2 linked regions of the Homo sapiens genome follow. The protein of the gene in region 1 interacts with the protein of each later gene in a biochemical or structural test. Each region holds a gene or a part of one and is shown in the gene's direction. Other genes may lie near its edges.

Evidence for each region. The genes of interacting proteins can lie anywhere in the genome.
Region 2: the proteins of SDC2 (region 1) and SDCBP form a complex in vitro, tested with the Homo sapiens proteins (3 studies listed by BioGRID and IntAct, with this or other methods).

The regions. Positions count from the first base shown.
Region 1 is NC_000008.11:96,601,797-96,608,824, forward strand, and holds part of SDC2 (syndecan-2 precursor), read left to right. Parts: intron 1-598; coding exon 599-732; intron 733-6,538; coding exon 6,539-6,674; intron 6,675-7,028. UniProt on the Homo sapiens protein: Cell surface proteoglycan which regulates dendritic arbor morphogenesis.
Region 2 is NC_000008.11:58,556,233-58,563,260, forward strand, and holds part of SDCBP (syntenin-1), read left to right. Parts: intron 1-4,051; exon of another isoform or gene 4,052-5,515; coding exon of another isoform or gene 5,516-5,563; intron 5,564-7,028. UniProt on the Homo sapiens protein: Multifunctional adapter protein involved in diverse array of functions including trafficking of transmembrane proteins, neuro and immunomodulation, exosome biogenesis, and tumorigenesis.

The DNA.
Region 1 (7,028 bases):
CCACCCAGGCTGGAATGCAATGGTGTGACCTCTGCTCACTGCAACCTCCACCTCCAGGTTCAAGTGATTCTCCTGCCTCAGCCTCCCGAGTAGCTGGGATTACAGGCGTGCGCCGCCACGCCCAGCTAAATTTTTGAATTTTTAGTAGAGATGAGGTTTCACCATATAGGCCAGGCTGGTCTCGATCTCCTGACCTCGTGATCCGCTCTCCTCGGCCTCCCAAAGTGCTGAAATTACAGGCGTGAGCCCCTGCACCTGGACTGTTGTGTTCTTAAAATGGAAATGGAGCACGTTTCAGTGTAGATGGGAAAAAATCTTGTCAAGCAGGGAGAAAAGGAACATGCAAGTGAAAGAAGGGCTACTTGAATGTTCAGGATAATACTATTAAGGAAAAACTTGCTAGACTACCCACAGACACCTTTGAAATCACTTCTTCATCATGGTGAAGACCACAGGAAGCTTTGTGCTGAAGTCTTAAAGAGCCAGCATTTTGAAAGAACATGATTCTGTCAGTGTCAACGTCAGGCAATAGTGCCTGATAATGGAGACATCTGTGTCATGATTGCCATGCTCAGTTCATCTTCACTTACTTTTCCAGGAGCTGATGAGGATGTAGAGAGTCCAGAGCTGACAACATCTCGACCACTTCCAAAGATACTGTTGACTAGTGCTGCTCCAAAAGTGGAAACCACGACGCTGAATATACAGAACAAGATACCTGCTCAGACAAAGGTGCGTTCTATTTTCCATTGCATTGCATTATCAGGTTATTACAAATGCTTCACTTTACTGACTGTACACAACAGTCCCTTTTGTATTATTTTCTTCTTTTTGGAGCTACCCATCATGAACTATGTACACAACAGTTCTTTTAAAAGACCCCACTTAAAATTGTGTAAGGACAAATGGTCTTCAGGTGGTGTTATAAATGGCTCTTCCTTACTCTTTTTGATCATTTTGGCATTTACCCACTTATAATCTCTGTCATCCAGGCTCAAATTATATACAACTATTTTTCACATGGCCCTCCTTCTTAAGGAACGTCTGAAGCCCAGTTAAGAAGTAAAGCCCTGTTTCTTTGGTTTCCTGGTTTGTAGGTTACGTAATTAGAAGACTCCAGGTCACGTCTTGAGGTGGTCCTAGTCTCACTAAGTCATTTCTCAGTCTTCCTAGGCCGACCATCAGTACTATGTAATCCTTGACCTCTCTCGATGATGATGAACCTGGGTACATCTGTATATATTCATTTTGAGAGCTGACTTATTAAGAATAAGGTCTTTGGCCTTAGACCTGAGTAAAGTGACCAGCTAATGAAAACTTGGAGCTTGTGATTTTGACCTCGTTAATATTGCAGTTAGCTGACCATCCACTAATAGGTAACCCACTGAAGTTAGAACATGCATATTAAAGTCTGGCAAAGACCTAAGTTTCAAATCCTGGATCCAGTCAGGTTTCTTAGCTTCTGAACCCATTTCCTATGGGCCTTGAAGAAGATGAAATGTGAGTGCATGTAGCATGGCACCTGAGACCTAGTCACCATTCTGTAAGCATTAATTGAATTGGTGGAGCAGAAGAGACCAAGCCAATTCACCAAATGAGCATGTGTAATAACTGTAGTGGTAGACTTTGCAATCAGTGCAGGGGTAACATATGGCTTAAGAAAACTCAGAAGCACAAGCATCCCCTTTTAGAGCTCACCCATCTGTTGATTAGAAATGAGATGCTGCCAAGCTTTAGCAGCAGACAGGGTATGGATATGGAAGGCTGTTTGATGAAGGTGGCGACAGGCCTTCCTTGGAGTAAGAATCATCCCGTCTTCAGGCCAGAATGCATGTGGGCTTTTCTTACCCTTGCCCCAGAGTACCTTTGTTCTTCCTCCTCCTCCATCCTCCCAGTGCCTGTGACTGGAATGGTGAATGGCACCGCTGGATGGGTTTCTGCAGATGTGGAACAGCCAGGAAGCCAGCCCTGTCCAAATTGAAGTGCTTTCTGTAGGACCAAGAAGGGTCAATTACTATTAGTGGTAGACTTCACAAGCCAGGCGGTAGGAAGGCAGGGAGAGCCCTATGAGAACTGAGACCGACTCACCTGGCATGTGCTGGATCCATGCATAAAAGCTACTGTATCAATGTTTCAGTTGAGTGAATGAAACAAAAAAAGAAAGGGAGAAATGAAAAGTGCAGGTGCAATTGGTGGTACGATGACTGCCTCAGAGTGTGTGTGGCACAATTAGCTACTATTTACTAAAGATGCATTTGGCTCTTACCACATTTTTATTTGACCACTTCTCTTGACTAAATCTGCTGAAGTCAGAGACAATTAGGACTCACTAGCTTGAGGGAAGCAACTCTCCTGGGTGAGTTTTGGCTTGTAGTGATAGAGAGTTCTATCCTAAGCAAGACTTAATTTGACATAGAGTTCTGTCTGGTTTGTTAACAGCAATGGATTGACCACTAATTTAAGTTTTTAAAAATTGGTTTTAAGGAAGTAATTGCATCAGATCGAGATAAAAAATGTAGAACTTTGGCAGGTGAATTTAAAAATTAAGGAGCCCAAAAGATTTTAATACATTTATATTCTTACTATCATTTGTGTTCAATATAGTAATAGTAGAAATTCATCCATTTATAGGAGATTTGTTGAGTGCTATTCATTATGTGTCGAACACTGTTTGCAGCACTGATAATGATAATATTGATCATGAATAACATGAATAATAATGATTAAATTTTTCATTTTGCTGTTTATGTGGTACAGCCGAATTGAACATTGCCTCTAGGATACCATTAGTGTAGATTTTGCTTTTCAATTGGTCTCACAGTGGCATTAATGTCACTGTTACGGATATCCTATCTAGTTTGTTGTAAATTTAAGTGACTAAAATGCACAAAAGGGAATCTCGTTATTTGTTTGAGAAGAGCATCACTCATAAGCTTTTACTTCTGTTGCATTTCCATGGCATCCAAACAACCAGACATGGATGTGGCAGATCTTTACTTGGCCTCATTTAATCATCCCTGCTGTCTTTTTGCGGATTCATTTTGCACATACATTCATACAAGAGTGAAGGTATTTCAGATTAGTTCCATATTACCAAATGGTATCTTCTTAGTCAAGCCTTTGCTTCCATACGATAAAACATTTTGACTTAAAAAATGAATTTTCCACCCAGAGCCGCTTGAGGCTTGTGCACCTCCAGCTGCAGGGCGGCTCCAGTTCTGTGGAGTCCTTCAGTTCCCACACTCTCAGATCCCTGGATTGCACGCTTTGTTCAGCCTGCCGGATCAGAGGCTGAGTCAGAGGAAACTGAAAAGATCAACTCTCTTAAATGACTTTAGGGACTCAATCACATGGTGAAACCATATGATTTGTAATAATAATGGGACAAAGATGATATGGATATGGATGAATTAAACTCAGTCTCTCATATTACAGTAACTACTTAGGTCCATTTCATTTCTCACCAGAACTTGTTTACCTCTCTCCCTAGTCACAAACCTGAGTATTCACCTATTTGAGATTTCTCTTCCCTTTTCTAACTTGTAATAGTAAAGCAGTACTAATGAGCAGTGAAAAGGTCTCTAGACTAGAACCCAGATAATCCATTCTCTGACCTGTTGTCTGTCTTTCCACAAGGCAGCCAATTAATGATGGGCTTTTCATGAGAAGAATAGAAAAATCTCAGCAAAAATACTGCCAATGAGCTGCTCTCTTCTGCTTTACTTTGGTACCTGAAGGCCTGGGAAGGCCTGTCGTATTTCCTTCTCTCATAGTAATAGAAAGGACGGTGACATTTTCAGTGCATATTGTGCACCAGTGAAATGAAATTTCTCTATGGCCTCTGCTTTTTGTAAGTCATGGCAGGTTGAAGTTTAGGTAGTACAGGGTTTCTTGCAATTTGGGAATGACAGTTACTCTTTATTATACTTTATTACATACCACCTTCAGTAGAAGTGTAGCGTTCTGCTCACTGAGACAGGGACCTATTGATCTTACATACCCTAGAGTACAAATGGATCCACCTGGTCTAGCTTATGGTCCTTCCTAGCAATGAGGGTGGCCTTAAGGTGCAGAAAAGAAGTATGATGTGGTCAGGGTCCCACAGGAGCTACTTGCACAGCCCAAGAAGGTGTGAGGTCTTTTCTTCTTACACTCTTTAAGCCTCTAGACTTAACTAGCAGGCCGCCATTTTGGATGAACTCTAGCCTTCAGAAAGCAATCATTTGCTTTGCTGAGCCATGGTATGTTAGACTCTGTGGAGTCCTAATGAAGATGGTAGGAAGCTCTCAGGAACTTAGGAAGAGTAGTAGAGCTGAGAAGGATTATTGTCTGCAGTATTTTTTTTGAGACAGGGTCTCACTCTGTTACCCAGGCTAGAATGCAGTGGCACAATTATAGCTCACCGCAGCCTCCAACTCCTGGGATCAAGAGATCCTCCACAGGTACACAGCACCATGCCTGGCTAATTTTAAAAATTTTTTTGTAGAGACAAGGTCTCAGTATGTTGCCCAGGTTGGTCTCGAATGATCCTCTCACCTTGGGCTCCCTACCCAGCCACCTTTAGCCTTTAAACCTCAATGAAGTTGACAGTGTTTTCATCAGTGATGCTGGCCGACAAGAACTTCAGACTGTTAGAGAATGAACAACTCCTTTGAATGGGACTTCTCTAATCCACTGGTTCTTAAACTATGGAATTGTCTGGAGAACTTAAATAGCAGTAAAAGTCAGTGCCAGCTACATAGTGCCCTGTATAGCTCAGAAGTGAAGGAGTAAGGAGAACTGGGGCAGTGCTGTTGGGTTGGAGCAGTCAGAGGGAGATGGTGACCTGAAGTCAGACCAATTGAAATGGAACCTCTAGTAGTAGGACTGTATTTTTTTTAATGCCTTTCAGGTGATGTGGATCAGCGTAACCTTGGGTGATTCACATAAGATGGCCAGTGATGGTGCTGAGAGTTAGAAAGGCAAGAGATAATTTCTGTGTAAATAATCCTGGGGGTTTAGTGAGGTAAAAGGTCAGAGAAGGCTTCATTAAGGACAAACAGATAGTAAAAGAAGTGCAACATTTGGACTGGGGATAGAACTGCATGAACTAGAGCAGAGTTCCCCACCCGCTTCTGGGGCCACGGACCAGTAGCGGTGGCCTGTTAGGAACCAGGCTGCACAGCAGGAAGTGAGTGAGCATTACCACCTGAGCTCCGCCTCCTGTCAGATCAGTGGAGGCGTGCCATTCCCATAGGATCTAGGAGCGCAAACGCGATTGTGAACTGTGCCTGTTGTGCTCCTTATGAGAGTCTGAGGTGGAATAGTTTCATCCCCCTCCATCCCCCCCACCCTCCCATTCATGGAAAGATTGGGGACCGCTAAACTACAGCACAGATACTAAGAACCATTTTTGATAATGAAGAGGTGGTGGAAATGACCTCACAGGGTTTTCTACTGGGAGTAAGTGGTGGGTTGGGTGAGGACTGGAAGCTACCCAACACCTGCAGTTCTGAGGTCGATGCGGGATGGGAGCTGGGCTGTGATGTGCTGGCCACCTGAACGAAGCTGTGGAAATGAGAACCCAAGGGAAGAAGTTAATGTGAGAGCAAGATGGGAGGCAAATTGACAGTGCTGTGACATGGAAAACATATGATAGAAAATGTGCCGTAATAGATAACTTGGTAACACCCCAAAATACAGTGCCATTAATGGGAATAGAAAAGGAGGTTGATCTGATTCAGCAGTGAATTAATTACTACTTAGACTTGACGAGTAGAGTTAAAGGTGGTACAGCCAACAGTTAATGTCCTGCAGGCTGCTGGCTTGTTGGGAATAATGCTGACTAGAGATGCGGCTGTGAGAGGTATTCCCATAGATTTCTGCTTGAGCATTGTGCAGTGTCCGAGACCCAGTGAGTGTCGTTCATTAGACAGGTGAGGAAATCAAGGTGGAGAAAAGAAGTATGATGTGATCAGGGAGGAGCTACTTGCGCAATCCAAGTCCCTGGAAGTCCTGGTCTAGGGTTTGCTGAAGGTAATATAACTAGGGGGAAGCATTAGGAGTAAGGCTTGGGGATTGCTCCCCACAGAGTGGGGACAGGAAAAGCCCAGTCAGGCGTGAGAGAATATCTGAAAGGGAACTGTTGTCCTAGTGCCCTGTGTAGTTCAGAAGTGAAGGAGCAGGGAGAATTGGGGCAGTGCTGTTGGGTTGGAGCAGTCAGAGGGAGATGGTGACCTGCAGTTAGAAGAGTGGTGAGAAAGTAGAAATCTTAGGAAATGTCCACTAAAACAACCTCACCATGTCCTTAGGATTATTATGAACTCACTAGCTCTCCGACTTGCCTGATCATGCGATGGGTGTTGTGCAAACCATGAACTACATGGGTCCATCATGACACTCACCCATTGCTATAAACATCACACAAGTGATTATTCCAGTTATTTCCTAAACTCATTCTTTGGGGGAAAAAAAAATTTTGGAATATACTCATCTATTATTTCTTCTTTCCAACACATTTCCTTAAATCAATGTAATCTTTCCCTGTTTCCCATACCAGTCACCTGAAGAAACTGATAAAGAGAAAGTTCACCTCTCTGACTCAGAAAGGAAAATGGACCCAGCCGAAGAGGATACAAATGTGTATACTGAGAAACACTCAGACAGTCTGTTTAAACGGACAGAAGTCCTAGCAGGTGAGTAGCCTGGTGGGCCTCAGGTGGGAGGGTGCCTACATAGGCCTCTGTTAGTCTAAGTGATATTCAAAAGTGCAGCAAAGCTTGCTGTCATCTTTCTGCTGAAAGCAGTCTTGTGGGTGCTTGATTCCAGAGCGAGAAGCAAGAGGCTCAGCAAACATTGTCTTTATTGTCTGCCAGCTCCCTCAACCTACCTCTTCGCCAGCCATCGGGCAGGGGATAGGAGGTAGCCTAAAAGAGGGAAAGTTAACATCTGAATTGATCCAGAACAACTGGATGTAGAGAGATGGCAGAGTGTGGAGATCCATCAGTCTTGCTCACAGGCATTCTACATTTCAAAATAAAGAGAACGAA
Region 2 (7,028 bases), about 38 Mb from region 1:
GATGAAACTATATCACGAGGAGCGTTTAACCTAGATCCCTTGCATGCACAATTCACAATAGGGTTCCTGCTCCTGTGAGAATCTAATGCTGCCACTGATCTGACAGGAGCTGGAGCTCAGGTGGTAATGCTGGCTCACCTGCCACTCACCTGCTGTGGGTGGCCTGGTTCCCAATGGGCCACCGACTGGTACTGGTCCATGGCCCGGGGGTTGGGAACTCCTGTTTTAATAGCTTAGATTAAAAGAAGCAAATAAACATTATTTCACCTTAAACAGTCACATGTCATTTTTAAGGGAGGCCAGTTGTAGTTGGTGGTTTGAGAAGGGGTGAGGTTAATAACTCAGAAAATGATGAGTATTGCCATTCTAGGTGATATTATTTGGAAAACTTTGCCAGTGTTTCCTACTTCATTAATCAGAATATTGTGTCCAGAGAGCGAATAAACTAGAATTCCAAAATATCACATAAGTATTTAAGTTGAGGGCCTTCGTTCTGTACACATATTTAAAGACTTCAAGGAGGTTACTCTTATATTGCCCTGAGGGGGTTGAGGGACAAATGGGAAACTTGGTACTGAGGCAGACAATATATAAATACATATATATATAAAATGTATGTATTATATATAACATATATAATACATATATATTATAATACGTATAATACGTATTATAATATATTCTAATTATATATAATATATATTATTTATGAATAATATATAATGATTTATATATTATATATAACATAATATATATTGTATATCATACTATTATACTATATCTTATATACTATATTATAAGTATATAAGATATACTTATTATATACTATATTATATAGTATAGTATAGTATAATTTATACCATATATTATATATTATACTATTATATACAATATAGTATATATTATATACAATATTATAATATATAATTATAATGTATATTATAATATAATATAGTATTATTATATATTAATATTATATTATTTATATATTCCAGGAAAATGATATTAATTTTAATCAATATTTATATTTAAATATTTATATTTAAAATATTTATATTTAGATATTTATATTTAATTATATATAAATATAAAATATATAAATATAAATATATAAAATATATAGATATATAAAAATATATAAATATAAAAATATTTATATTTAAAATATAATAATATAATGTAATATAATATATATTATATATAATACATATAATACATATTATATAATACATATTATATATGTTATATATAATACATATGCACACACACACATATATAATATATATATAGCCTTTTGGTGTTCTGAAAAAGTCCGAAACTATCCCACCCACTGAAAGATCTCTTAATAGAAACTATTTGTGAGTTACTTCTGAGGCCTGAGATACATTGGGTGTAGGGGCCTTTCATAATGCATGAAGTGAGTCACAGAGATTGCAAATAATGTAGTGTGGGCCAAACCTGGTCAAAGGGTATGTGGGCAGTACCATTTCTTTCCAAGGAATTAGGCCAGTGGAAAAAAGCTGTAGTGGTCAGGAAGGTTTGATCAAACCCTTAAAGAGTAGTGGGAGTTTTATCTTCTTAGTGATTACTCAGCTCGAAGGAAAGCCTAGAAACAAAATTCTTTAGTTTAGTTCGTACAATAATAATGTTTGATAAGAGTTGCAAGTGAGGTAAAATGAGATTCTTCCACTGATGTAATAGTTACTTTCAGAATCCTCTTAAACCTCATTATTGGTCATTATAAAATTCCAGCCACAATTAGAAGGATTTCCCAGAGTTAGCTTTGTGGTTCTTGAAAAAGGGCTGTGTTTCTAACAGTTCCCATTAGGTCAAAGATTTAAATATAATGTACAAGTGACTTAATGGAGCCCTTCAGAAAAATAAAGCATTTATCATTTTCCTGGAAGGCTTTTTACACTGTTAGGTTCAAAAGTACGGACTTGCCCTAAGAATATTTTGATCTTTTCAATAAGTGTTTAAAGATATCTTATTTACTGTTGTTTTGATGACATTTGTCAAAATACTAACATTTGGTATCTTCTTTTTAAAAAGTTTTTTTTATTGGTGAGACAGGGTCTCAGTCTGTCCACCCAGGTTAGAATGTGGTGGTGTGACCACAGCTCACTGCAGCCTCAACCTCCTTTGCTCAAGTGGTCCTCCTACCTCAGCCTCCCAAGTAGCTAGGACTACAGGCATGTGCTGCTGTCCCTGGCTAGTTTTTTATATTTTTTGTAGAGATGGGGTTTCTCCATGTTGCCCAAGCTGGTCGCAAACTCCTGGGCTCAAGTGATCCACCTACCTTTTTCTCCCAAACTGTTGGGATTACAGGCACTGCGCCCAGCTACATTTGATATCTTTGAGGATGAGGAAAAAGTGTTTATGCTGTGTAAATAAACTAAATTGAGTCCTGCCTTCAAGTAGTGGAGATAAACATGTACTAGCTATAATCTGAGGCAGAGTTGAGAGGAGTTGGGAGGAGCAAATAATATCCAACTGAAGCCTTCAAAGTCACCCTCTTTTAAGAAGTGACACTTGACCTATGCCTCAAGGCTAACTAGGATTTTGATTGGTGGAGAAGTCCTGGAAGGACATTCCTGGAAGAGAATGCACCTTTTACAAAAATATGCAGGCATGGAAGCATGTGACCTGGGTGGCAAATAGTCAGTGGTTTGCAGCTACAACATTTTAATACGTGGAAAGAAATTTAATGAAATGGGTCAAGAAAGTAAAATTGAGGAATGCTTTGTGATTTAAAAAACAGTGAGAGTTAATTAAGATCAGTACACTTAAAGCAAACCTGAAACTTACTTTTTCAGAAGTGTAAATTACGGTAATATTTGTTATTTAAAAAAAATTTTGAAAGTCCATTTTTCTTCTAGGCTTGAGTTGCTGGTGTGTGAATTAACTCAAGAGTTGTTCAGACAACTTCAGTTAATATTTATTTGAAGAGAAACTTCTATGGAGAGAAAAGTTAGGAAACCACTTCATTTTTCATGAGAACAGTGGGATTTTGAAGTTAGCCAATGACAGAATCAAAAAAAGAAATCAAAAATAGAAATAATATTAGATGGCCAGGTAACATTCTTTTCAGTGCATTTTGGTTGTTGATATTGCAACTTGCTTTGCATTTTGTATATTATATATCATATGCATTTTGTTTATATTGATAGAATGGCTGAAAGTTTAAATAAGGCAAAAAATTGTGTTTAGGGAAAGGCTGCTAGGAAATTGATCCTTTGAACCCAAAGAAGATAATTCACTTTGTTCTCCTGGATTAATACAATTAAATCATATTTGATAGTGCTCTCTCAAGAATGTGAATTTTTTTTTTTTTCTCACAAACCCAGATTCTGTTTTTCCCTTAAGGACTGTACCAGGCCACTACTATTCACCATTGTACTGGAGATTATAGCCAGAGAAATTAGAAAAGAAACAAAAGATGTGTAATAGCAGCAAGAAGGTGCAATAGAAAGCTCATATGCTTCTTCTCCCCACAGAAATACTGATTCAATAACAATACACACACCAGACCTCTTTGTGAGAAATCCGGAAACTAGTTAAGAGGCTCCTGCATTCTAGGTGAGCAGTAAACCAGCTGCAGTGAAGATGGTAGGAAAATTCATCCTACTTGCTCACCATAGTTCATTCCCCTGGCTCAGCATGGCATGAGCAAGAGGAAACTCCAGGCTCCTGGTTTTTCCCTGGGCGGGGAAAGAGAAGACTGAAACATCTGTGTGACATTCAGATTTTTCAGAGGTCTGCCCAAGGGTCTGGTTTTTATTTTGCTTGAATATAAGTTCTGACAGGAAAGGGCACCAGGTTGCGGGGTCATTGAAAACAAAGTTGACAGTTTAGATTAGCAGGCACTCACCATGGTCCCTCCCCCTCCCTCAGCATGAAACCAGCAGGAGAAAATCCTCAACTCTTGGCTTCTCCTTGGGGAGACAAAAGAGTTGGAATGTGTGTCCAGTGTTTCACCTTTTCAGTGGGCTGAGGGACTGGCTTCTGTCTTGCTTGTCTTGGAAAGCTGACAGGGGCTGGTGTATTCCAGGTGCCCAGGAGCCACTGAGAACAGAAGACTTGTTGCTGCTCTAGAGGACCTATGGTAGGGCAGACAGAGGATGATACAGCTCAGCAGCTTGTCCCTACGTGTGGCATGAAAGGTGTTGGAGAGAGAATAGTGGAGTATGTGTCCAACATTCCAGCACTTCAGAGAGCTACCCCCAAGGGACTGGCTTCTGTTTCACCTGACTTGGAGCACAGGCAGGAGTGGACATACTCTAAAAGCCCACTGATGGGAAAGGGCACCAGGTTGGAGGCCTCTGAAAACAAGAGAGCTGGGTGGCTTGCAGCAGCTCCAGAGAACCTGAAGTACCACAGACAGATAGCACAGGGAGCAAAAGATTATGAGATCCTGAAAAAGGAAACGAACAAGTTCATCTTGAGAATTTATACACACTGGTCGAGAAGAAGCATCCTCAGGAAAGGTTCAAAAGGCATGCAGAATCTCTAGTCAGGCCGATCAGTGAGGATCTTTCTCTGTACAGAGCCAGACCACAAAGACTGGGAGGGGTGATATTTTTTCAAATGCTTGGATCCCAACATGATGTTAAAAGACACACAAAGAAATAGGGAAACATGGCACAATCAAAGAGTCAAAATATCCAGGAACCTACTTTAAGGAAACACAGATATCTTCATTATCTCAGAAGGAATTCAGACTAACCACCATAAACATGTTCAGTGACCCAAGGAAAATGCTGCATGAACAAAATGGTATCAACATAGAGATTGAAAACGTAAAAAGGAACCAAACAAACATTGTAACAGATGCAATATGCTTCTTTGACCAAATTGAAAGATTTACTAGAGGAGTTTAGCAGCAGTGTTTTTCAAGGAGAAGAATTAGTGAACTTGAAGCCAGGTCATTTGAAATTATCCAGTCAGAGAAGCAAAAAGAAAAAAAATAAAAAAAGAATGAAGACAGCCTAGAGTACTAATGGGACAGCATCAATTTTATCAATGTAGATTGTATGGAAGTTCCATATGTTGGAAAGAGAAAGGAGCAAAAAGCTTATTTGAAGAAATACTGGCCAAAACTTCCCAAACTGAAGGAAGGCAGTGGACATCCAGATTCAAGAAGCCAAATGGACTCCAGAGTAGAACAATCCGAAGACATCTACATGGAAACACACTGTAATCAAATTGTCAAAGAATTTTGAAAGCAGCAGGATAAGAACAACTTGTCATATACAAAGGAGATTCTGTGGGACTCTAAGTGGATTTCTTAGCAGAAACCTTGCAGGTCAGAAAGAAGTGGGATGATATAGTCAAACTGCTGGAAGAAAAACTGCCAGCAAAGTACTGTATGTGGCAAAACTTTTCTTTAAAAGTAAAAGAGAAATAAGATTCTCAAAATCTGAGAGAGTTCATCACCACTATATCTGACTTAAACGCCAATGGGAGTCTGTTAAATGGAAACAAAAGTATGTTCAACATGAAAGTATAAAATTAAATGATAAAGCTATGGACAAATAGAGACCTGCATATTATTGTAATGGTGGTGAGTAAATCACTTATTTCTGATATATAAGTCTAAGACAAAAGTTTAAGTGCCTGTAACTATAAAAATATTAATAGATGCACAACATAAAAGATGAAATTTGTAGCATCAGTAATGCAGTATGGGGATGGATGAGAAGAAGCAGTATTGTATGCAGTTGAAATTATCAGCTTAAAATAGGTTTATTAGAAGATGTTTTATGTAAACTCCATGGTAACCACAAAGAAAATACCTATAGAAAATACACACACACAAATAAGGAATCAAAGCATATCTATTAAAAAAAAAAACAGTGAAACAAAAAGCATGATGGCAAGAGAGGAAAGGAAGGACAAAAAAGTTTCAAGATAGAAAATCATTAACAAAATGTCATTGTAAGTCCTTCCCTATCAGTAATAACTTTAAATGTACTAAACTCTCCAATCAAAAGACATAGAGGGGATGAATGGATTAAAAAAATAAAACCAAGAGCCAGCTATACCCAGTTTATAAGAGACTCACTTCAGATTTAAGGATACTTTTTATTTTTTTACAGAAATGGATATACTGATTCTAAAACTGATACTGAATTGATAGGGATTTAGAATAGCCAAAACAATTTCGAAAAAGAACAAAGTGGGAGGATTCACATTAACTGATTTTAAAACTTAATACAAATGTACAGTACTCAAGAATGTGTGGTACTGGTATAAGGATAGACATATAGATCAGTGAAATAGAATTGAGATTGCAGAAATAAGTGCATACAGTTATGATCACTTTTCAATAACGATGCGAAGACAATTCAAAAATGTTATTTTCAAAAAATGGTGCTGAAATAACTGGGTTTCCACATGGATAATAATGAATATGGATCTATACCACACACCGTGTACAAAATTAACATAAAATAGATCAAAGATATAAATGCAGGAATTAAAGACATAACATTTTTTGAAGAAAACATAAGGGTAAGTCTTCATAACCTTGAGTTGGGCAGTAGTTTCTTAGATGTTATATCTAAAGCATAAGCAACCAAGAAGAAATATAGATTCAAATTTGTCAGAATTAAAAACCTCATATTGCAAAATGCACTGTGAGAAAAAATGAAAAGACAATCTACAGAATAAGAAAAGTATTTGTAAATCATATATGATAGTGGTCTATGATATGGTCTGAATGTTTGTGACTGTGTCCCTCCATTCATATGTTGAATCCTGTAATCATCAAGGGGATGGTATTAGAGTTACCATATGACCCAGCAGTTGCATGCTTAGCTATATTCCAAGAGAATTAAAGATGCATTTATTAAAAAAGTATATAAACTTACATATTATTTGCTAACAATGCAAATGCTCATTGGCATTTTTAACAGCATTATTTATAATAGCCAAAAGTGCAAATAACCCAAATGTCATCAGCTGATGACAGCATAAATATAATGTGGTATACATACAATGGAATATTATTCTGCTATGAAAATGAA